3 separate regions of the Homo sapiens genome follow, and all the other regions are reported to be linked to region 1. The links are microRNA targets in miRTarBase. Many come from high-throughput screens and were not tested one by one. Region 1 holds a microRNA gene; each other region holds the end of a gene's coding sequence.
The links. The annotated mature microRNA hsa-miR-193a-3p reads AACUGGCCUACAAAGUCCCAGU and lies in region 1 at 966-987, opposite strand. An mRNA with a match to its seed (bases 2 to 7 or 8) in the 3' UTR can be bound and repressed. Matches are read on the target gene's strand: a 7mer-m8 pairs with bases 2 to 8, a 7mer-A1 pairs with bases 2 to 7 and ends in A, and an 8mer does both.

Region 2: miRTarBase lists IRF2BPL as a target of hsa-miR-193a-3p. Seed matches in the 3' UTR shown: 7mer-m8 at 906-912.
Region 3: miRTarBase lists SLC10A6 as a target of hsa-miR-193a-3p. Seed matches in the 3' UTR shown: 8mer at 477-484 and 7mer-m8 at 523-529.

What each region holds. Positions count from the first base shown.
Region 1 is chr17:31,557,877-31,561,036 of GRCh38, reverse strand. MIR193A (microRNA 193a) reads right to left here and starts at 1,041; the gene lies at 954-1,041. RefSeq lists an enhancer at 1,238-2,028 and a silencer at 1,770-2,259.
Region 2 is chr14:77,022,873-77,025,872 of GRCh38, reverse strand. It overlaps IRF2BPL (interferon regulatory factor 2 binding protein like), which reads left to right. Exons shown (of 1, transcript NM_024496.4): 1 at 1-1,330. The coding sequence ends at 471. Among named protein-coding and RNA genes, the nearest start is that of IRF2BPL, 4.3 kb to the left of the region's middle. RefSeq lists a silencer at 1,601-1,826 and an enhancer at 2,033-2,327.
Region 3 is chr4:86,821,124-86,824,123 of GRCh38, reverse strand. SLC10A6 (solute carrier family 10 member 6) reads left to right here. Exons shown (of 6, transcript NM_197965.3): 6 at 222-656. The coding sequence ends at 436. Among named protein-coding and RNA genes, the nearest start is that of SLC10A6, 27 kb to the left of the region's middle.

The DNA of each region.
Region 1 (3,160 bases):
TGGGAAAATGCCTCTTGAATGGGTTTTTACACGACCTGGCAAGGGGTGGGCCAACCTGGCCGTGATGGTTCCTCCCTCTCACCCTCCCTCCTCCCAGCTCCTAAAAACCTCTCCTGTTTTCCAAAGCCAAGTAAGACAGGGACCAGACGTTCCCTATTTTGTCAACCAGTTCTTCACACAGTTCAAGTCACCTCACTGCATGTCCCCAGATGTTTTTCCACGGCCAAGAGCCAAAAACACAACACAAACAAAGGACAAATAACCAAAGTTCCAACACCAGGCAAACCCGAGGTTTCAGGGGTTGGTGGGTTTTTGTTTTCGGGGAGTAGAAGCAAACGCACTAGAGGAATAGATAAGAGACTTTAAAGGAGAGTTTAAGGAATTCCAGCAAAAAACTTGAAGAGGACTAGAGTGGGTCCACATTATGTTGCATCGGTCAGGGAACAAAAGACCGGCCATTGGGAACACATCCACAAAGATCCATCTTTAATGAAATGGTGTTTGGGAGAGGAACAGGGGCTTCCTGCGCCACCGGGCCAAACCTCCGCTTCCCACCTCCCCAGGGGCAATTCTAGAAGTCAGGCCCCGTTCTCCCCACCCCCAAGCTCAAGGTTGCCGCCCTGGAAAGCACAGCAGGGCAGGCCTCGGTAAGTGGCAGGGCTTGGCCCATGGGTAAGCCGGGTCCCGTCTGTCCACTCAACCCAGGTCGCCGGGGCGCGGTCCACGTCTGCCCAAAGGGTACGGACCCCAAGCAGTGACCGACTCACACTTCCGAGAGCGTCGCTATTTCTCCAGCGAAGTGCGGGGATTTCCCGAATCACCGCACGCAGCCGGGGCGAGCGCACCTCACCACTCCTTCTCCAGCGTGGACCTGAGAGGCAGCCTGGCCGGAGCGCACGCCAGCCCGGGAGGAAGCCGGCCTGGGGCGAGGACCGGGGAGAAGACGCTGGTCCCGGGGGCCGAGAACTGGGACTTTGTAGGCCAGTTGATCCGACACCCTCATCTCGCCCGCAAAGACCCAGCCCTCAGCTCCCATCCTCGGAGTTCGGGGTGCGTCCCCGACGGGCTTCCCGGGGCTGGGTCCGGTCGCCGGCTCTGTGCACCGCGCTCCGCTCCGCCGAAGCTCTGGGTGTCCCTCAGGCGGCGTTCCCCGGGAAAGTCCACCGCCCCGCCCGACCTCGGGTCGCGGGCTCCAAACCCAGCCCTCCAAGGGTTACACGACGCTCGGCGGCCTCCACGCCACCCCCGGGCCGCCTCGGCTCAGGCCGAGGGACAGCGCTGGGGGAGGGGGAGGTGCGGGGACCAAAGCCTCCCCACCGCAGCCCCACTCCCGAGTGGGGCGCAAGAGTTATGCGCCGAGAAACTTCGCCACGCTCCCACGCCGCGCCTGCGAGGCCCAGCTCCGCTCTGCCTCGGTTACCTGCGCTCAGCTCGGCGGGCGAGGGGCGCGGGGCGCGGGGCAGGAGCCGTGGCCGACCTCTCGCAGCAGGCCGCACCCTCCCGCAAGGCCGAGCCCGCACCGCTGCCTGGGCACGGGGGCCATAGCCGCTAGCCGGGGCCCGCGCCCCGACGTTCCGGGAGCCCCTCGAACTCCTGGCCGGGGGCCGTGGCCTCGCTCGACCTGCCCGGGACCTGGGGGCCGCCGCCGCCCCCTCCGCTAGGAGAGCGAGCCCGACGAAGCCGGGAGAGGAGCGGGGCGGCGAGACCCCTCGAAAGTTGGGGGGGTCGGCTTGCTCGCCGCGGCCCGACCTGGCTCCACGTGCTGGTGACACATCAGGAAGGCTGCGCGCCCCGCGGCTCCCGGCGGGCGGACGCGGCCAGCGCCCGCCCGCACCGCCTCCCGGAGCCGAGCGGACGGCGCCCCGCCCCGGCCCGCCCTTCGCCCGCCCCTAGGCGGCACCGCCCCCGGCCGCGACGCCCGCTCCAGCCTGCGGCACCGGCGGGAGAGACCCTGACGGCGGTGGGGGGTGGCCCGGGTTCCCAGGTCCCGGGTGGCCCGCACTGCCCCGGGGATGGGGTCCCGACGCGGGCGGCCCTACTCGACAGTCTGGAGTGCCTTCCTCCCAGTCACGCAGTCCTTCCCGCCCCGGAGCCCAGTAATTTTCCCTTTTCCTCCTTTGACCCGTCCGAGCAGCTGCCAGCGCTTCCTCCCGCGGAGACCGGCGCGGGGAGCCCCCTGCCGGCCGCTCCGCTCCCGGGCCGCGCCCCCGCCCGGTGGAGCGCGCCTGCCGCCGGCCTCAACTTCCCCATCTAGAACCTGGAGCCGCCGGGCACTTCTGGCAGGGCTTTGGTGGCAAAGATTATAAATTAAAGTGCCAAGCATAGTACCGGGCAGCATACTTTCTTGAGATGTTAAAATTTCGTGCTTTCAACTCCCAGTTCCAGCGGCCTGCAGACAACCTCTCTTCCTGGCTGTGCTGTTTGAAAAGCTGAGTTCCTTTAGGGAGACTGTGGAAAAGGAGTGGGACAGAAAAGCTTTGAGGCTGAGTAAGAGCTGTCCCAAGATTAGCGAGGGGTGGGAGGTCAGTGGAATCCCCTTGGTGGAGACCTGCTGCCCCACTGTCTCTCCGGAGACGCCAGGATGTGGGAGAGTAACTGCGTGTCTCCTCTGGGACCTGAACCAGGCCTCTACCAAGATCCCCAGCCTCAAGATGGCCAGGATTCCAGGCACCGTGGGTGATGGGGAAGCCCAAATAACCACTGAGGTTGAGTTTCCCAACCTCTTCAGGTCGAGATTTGGAGCCATTTAAAGAAAATAACGTGACATATCTGTTTGTGTCCCGACATAGATATTAGCTATGTTCCTGCCTTCTCTTTCCTGGCCTCACCAACCCAGATCATGCCTTTAAATCTCACTATGAGGCTGGGCACGGTGGCGCACACCTGTAATCCCAGCACTTTGGGAGGCCAAGGCAGGATTGCTTGAGCCCAGGAGTTTGAGACCAGCCTGGGAACATAGTGAGACTCTGTCTTTACAAAAAGTTAAAAAAAAAAAAAAAATTAGCTGGGCGTGGTGGCACACACCTGAGGTGGGAGGATCGCTGAAGCCCAGGAGTTAGAGGCTACAGTGAATTATGATCGCACCACGGCACTCCAGCCTGCGTGACAGAGGGAGACCCTGTCTCTAAACTTCACTTTGGTAAGGGTTGAGTGGTATATC
Region 2 (3,000 bases), not on the chromosome of region 1:
AAGGATGGCAGTTCCGTGCACTCTACCACTGCGTCGGCGCGGCGAAACAGCAGCAGCCCAGTCTCGCCGGCCTCCGTGCCGGGGCAGCGCCGCTTGGCATCACGTAACGGGGACCTGAATTTACAGGTGGCGCCCCCGCCGCCTAGCGCCCACCCGGGCATGGACCAAGTGCACCCCCAAAACATTCCGGATTCCCCCATGGCCAACAGCGGACCCCTCTGCTGCACCATTTGCCACGAACGTTTGGAGGATACGCATTTCGTTCAGTGCCCTTCCGTCCCCAGCCACAAATTTTGCTTCCCTTGCTCTAGAGAGAGTATCAAGGCCCAGGGGGCCACCGGCGAGGTGTATTGCCCCAGCGGAGAGAAATGCCCCCTAGTCGGGTCGAATGTACCTTGGGCCTTCATGCAGGGCGAAATCGCGACTATCTTAGCTGGGGATGTTAAAGTGAAAAAGGAGAGAGACCCTTGAACCACTGGGCAGCCACCTCCTTTGCCCTAGACCAGCTCCTCTCCAATCCTGAGGGCCCCTCCCCCAACCCAACTCGACCCTCCCTCCCCTCACCCCCAAGGTGTAGAATTGTGAATATAACGAAACTGCAAAAAGTTAGTCTTATGTATAGACATTATTTTCGTCGTATGTTTCTATATTTTGAAACAAAGGTATGTAACTTCTTCATTTGAAGGATAAGCTGGTTTGTGTTAAGCAGTATAGTATTGGTTGGGTCATTTGCATCATATCGTTAGCATTTATTTGGTGGCAGAATGTTTGCCTAGGTACAGAATTAATAGCCCTTAGCAACGACTGCTGCTGGTGTGTATTTTTGTAAATGTTATGCACTCTCTGAAAGGAAAAACACACACAAAAGAAAAAGACTTTTTTTTTTTTTTTTTTTTTTTTGCCAAGGCCAGTGTTGCTGCCTAAAAAAAAAAAAAAAAAAAAAAAAAAAAAAAAAAAATGCTATAAAATGGTGAAAGCTTCCTTCTAAACTGCCCCAAGTGTTGAAGTCTTCACTTTATTTTGTTGTTTTGTTTTGTTTTTCTGTTTTGTTTGCAAAATGGTAAGGGGGTGTCGGGGGGGATGGGGTGTATTTTGTTGCAAGTTTGTGAGGGGAAAATGTTTTGGTTTGTTTCTACTGACCTGAATGTGTTGGATCTACACGTGTTGTTTTGTTTTTGCTTTATTGATGCACGGATGCTTTTGAACAGTAGAGCGAAATGCTAGACATGGAGAATCTGCTCTGTTTGTCCTTTATACATTTCTGTAGTTAACAGAACACTGTAATGTGCCTTGGAGCTTAGTAACTTGTAATAAATTCAATTGATATTAACTGCGCTGAGTCAGCAATTTTGTCTTTCTAGGGCTAAGGCCATGCAACTCCGACGTAGGCGACACCCTCCCTACCTCCAGTATAGAACGAAAATCCTAGTGCTTTTGAAAGCCCTGGGAGCTGGCCTGTGGGAAAGGCCCTGTGCTGCCTTGCTGCCCCTCCCCCTCGGTACCAGGCTATTTAAATTCACCTCTTGGGGAGGCGACAGTTGCTGACTAAGCGATTTCGGTTTACTCTTCAGCATCTCTATTTTCCCCCGGATGCGGGCCCAGCTGCAAATGGCATTGTCAAGAATGCTTTCTGGTGCCTCGCCCTGTGGCGGTGAACATAGGCTGACACCCAGTGCAGCTGGTGACTTGACAAGTGGGCGAAAAAGTCTAGGAGAAAAGCTAGGATGCTTTGCTTCTTAGATATGACAGACATCAGTCTGCATATTTAAAACAAAACTGCCACAGAGCTGGGAGCAAATGCATACACTCAGCCTTGGAGAGTCCGCAGTAGCTTCAGGCTGGTTCCTTGGAAAACCAGTTTTCACCTCATTCATTACAAGTTTTCTTTCTTGTATTTTAAATAATTATTTTTAAAGGCAGAAATAATTCTAAAGACTTAGTTGATTAGAGAGGGTTTCTGAGGATGAGGAAGAGGGGGGGAAACCCCAAACTTAGTTCCTGAAGCAAAGGTTTACTTCCAACATCAAATAAAAATCCATTCCTGCTGGTGAAGCAATGCAATTATTCATCTAATCAGCTTTTGGCGGCGTTTGTGAGGTGCAGAGAGGCGGGGAAGCGGAGAGAAGACTACTGCCCTTTAGAGCAGAGCCCCTGCTCGTGGGCTGAGAGCAGCCTGGAGTCCTCCCAGTGGTAGGGGAAGGCAAACAAACCTGATCTGAACCTTGTACTTTCCTGGGAGGCAAATAGAAGAGCAGAAAACAGGAGGGAGGAAGCAAAACAAAACCCGGCAATCCAGTCAAATTGATTCCTGGCCACATCTCATTCCTGGGCGGGGCGAGCTGGGCCCTGTTGGTCCCCTCCAAGGCTGAAGGACTATTAAGAAACTTGGATCCCCCACTCCACTCCCATCAAAGGAGTGGGAAGACTGGGAGGTGGGGATGGGTACAGGCACGTTTGGGGAGAAACAAATCACTGGTTCGCCCAGAACTCTGGTGTGGAGGCCGGGCTGGTGTCGGAACTTGTTAATAACACCCTTTTAGTTTCTTTTCCTGCTTTGCCACTGCCATCACTGAAGTGGTGGAAACCAGGACTCTGTGTGCACGCGCACTCGCGTGTGTGTGTGTGGGTGTGGATAAGTGGCAATATTGATGGATCTGCTGCAGCCTCTTAATCCTGGTACATGGGAGGTGCCTGCCTCACCTCTAAGAATCTCCCCACATATAAATAGATATTCATGTCAGCTTCCTGCAAATGTGTCCTTGCATTTTCATCTGCTGCCAAGTGTTGTATTGGTGCTTATGAGTCATGAAACCTATTTTCATCCGCAGGGGTAATTAACTTGGGGGTGATAATGCATAGCAGACTGTAGGAAGAGTTAATTCCAAAACCCATCCTCGCCTGGCTACCAATCACACATTGCACTTAAAGGTCTGGGTTGGCTTTTTGTGTAAGTTCATTAATAAAAACCAAGCATGTTTTGCCTGGAAGATCCTCTAAGAT
Region 3 (3,000 bases), not on the chromosome of region 1:
GAGCCTCAATCACAAATGGTTCATCCAGACAAAAGAGCCATTCTGATACACTGAATCCTTCTGTTCTATAGCTTTCTCTCTTTCCCCCTTCTTTTCCCTGGGTGTTTATACATACATGATGCCACTGAAACAAACACCTGAAGGATTGACAAGTGTACAGTGTCACCAAATTAGACTCTTTGTTAAAGTGATTGTTAATACTTGTATGTTTTAACACCTAGCATATCAGACGTACAAGAGGAGATTGAAGAACAAACATGGAAAAAAGAACTCAGGTTGCACAGAAGTCTGCCATACGAGGAAATCGACTTCTTCCAGAGAGACCAATGCCTTCTTGGAGGTGAATGAAGAAGGTGCCATCACTCCTGGGCCACCAGGGCCAATGGATTGCCACAGGGCTCTCGAGCCAGTTGGCCACATCACTTCATGTGAATAGCAGGGACTAGCTGGCTGGACTGGCCCCCTTCTTTTTCAGTGGCCAGTAAAGACAGTGTGCAGCTGACACATGAATCTTGTTGGTAGGGCCAGTGTGAATATTTAAGTGTTCAATGTTAGAATATTTATATTTTCATGTGGATTGTGAATTGTGATGGGATCACTTTTGGAGATTCCCATTTCAGGGAGTTTCTTCTGGGGGTTAACATAACGTATCAATGAGCTGCCTTGTATGTTCTTGTCTTCCCATGCAGCAAATAGTACCTGGCAGTAGGTAAAATCCTTCATTAGGGGAACTTATCCTTATGTTGTGGATTTTTTTTTTTTGAGACAGAGTCTTGCTCTGTTGCCCAGGCTGGAGTGCAGTGGCACAATCTCGGCTCACCACAACCTCCGCCTCCTGGGTTCAAGTGATTCCCTTGCCTCAGCCTCCCAAGTAGCTGGGATCACAGGTGTGTGCCACCATGCCTGGCTAATATTTTGTATTTTAGTAGAGATGGGGTTTCACCATGTTGGCCAGTCTGGTTTCGAACTCCTGGTCTCAAGTGATCTGCCCGCCTCAGCCTCCCAAAGTGCTGGGATTACAGGCATGAGCCACTGCGCCCAGCCACGTTGTGGATTTTAATTGAACAAGAGTTAGAACTCTAAGTAGAGGAGATGTCACCTCATACTGCAGGGTGACGCAGACCTATGTGACTTCTTGACTCTGGGCAGGTCCTCAGGTGCACTGAGAGGAGAACAAATAGCTCTTATAATAAATGGGGCAGTTTTCTCAAATGATTATTATTTTTAAGAAATTGAAAATCATTTTGATTATAGATGTAACACAAGCTTGGAAAGAATTTAAAACACACATACGGTTAAAAATGGAATGCCCTGTATTTTCACTTTCTAAAGATTGACACATGGTTGGGCACAGTGGCTCATGCCTGTAATCCCAGCACTTTGGGAGGCTGAGGTGGGCAGATCACCTGAGGTCAGGAGTTCAAGACCAGTCTGGCCAACATGGTGAAACCCCATCTCTACTAAAAATACAAAAATTAGCCAGTCATGGTGGCATGCACCTGTAATCCCAGCTACTTGGGAGGCTGTGGCAGAAGAATCACTTGAACCCAGGAGGCAGAGGTTGCAGTGAGCTGAGATCACGCCACTGCGCTCCAGCCTGGGTGACAGAGTAAGACTCTGACTCAAAAAAAAAAAGAAAGACCCATGTGTATCCTTCTAAGCTGTGTATGTAAACTGTATCATTTTAAGAACCTTGAGATCATTCCATATATTGTTTTGTAAGTCACTTGATGACACATTATGGAACATCTTTGAGTGTCAGTCTGTGTTGACCTACCTCATTCTTTAGTATAGTAGTGATGTGGAAGTATTCTATTGTGTGGAAGGACTGTAATTTATTTAACCACTCCTTATTCATGGACACTTAGATAGCTTTCAGCTTAACAGTATTACAGTGCTGTTACAAACACTTTTGCCTTTAGGTGCAAGTATTTCTGTAGGCTCACTTCCTGTGACTTGAATTTCCAAGCCAATTGCTTACCGAAATGTATGACAGATTGCTATCTGGCAACGTTGTACAGCAGTGCCTGAGAGGGCCTGGTTTCCCACAGTCTCACCAGTCAAATGAATGATCAATTTTGATTGGTTAAAACATCTCATTTAAAATTTCATTTAGGCTGGGCGCGGTGGCTCACGCCTGTAATCCCAGCACTTTGGGAGGCCGAGGCGGGTGGATCACGAGGTCAGGAGATCGAGACCATCCTGGCTAACACGGTGAAATCCTGTCTCTACTAAAAATACAAGAAATTAGCCTGGTGTGGTGGCGGGCGCCTGTAGTCCCAGCTACTCTGGAGGCTGAGGCAGGAGAATGGCGTGAACCCAGGAGGCGGAGGTTGCAGTGAGCCGAGATCATGCCACTGCACTCCAGCCTGGGCAACAGAGCGAAACTCCATCTCAAAAAAAAACAAAAAACAAAAAACAAAATTTCATTTAAAAACTGAATGAACTAAAGCATTTTTCACAATCACTTGGCAACTTATGTCCTTTGCCTGCTTTTCTATTGTATCTTTTCCTTTTTGATGTATAGATTTTGAACCATAATGATAAGTGACAATGTGTCCTATGTTTTGTCAACATTTTACCTACTCGTTTATCTTTTGTTACTCTATGTCTTTTGCAATACAGAGTTTTATTTTTTTAATATATTCAGCTTATTAATCTTATTAAGAATGTTTTTTTTTTGCTCTGATCTCTGCCAAATGTTAGCATATTTATATATTTGTGTGGATTGTGAATTGTGATAGAATCTTTTTTTGAGAATGTATTTGGCCCCTTTTCAGGGAGTTCTTTCTGGGGGCTTACACAACATATTTACTAGCTGCTGTGTGTACTTCTTGTCTTCCCATGCAATACATGATGCCTGGCAGTAGGTAAATCTGTCCTCTACTAGAAATTATTAAAAATATTTTCCCATATGTTTTTCTAATACTGTGATGGAGCAAATACATACATACTTATTCCATTTTGAATTTTTCCTGTATGGCATAATAATCTAATTTT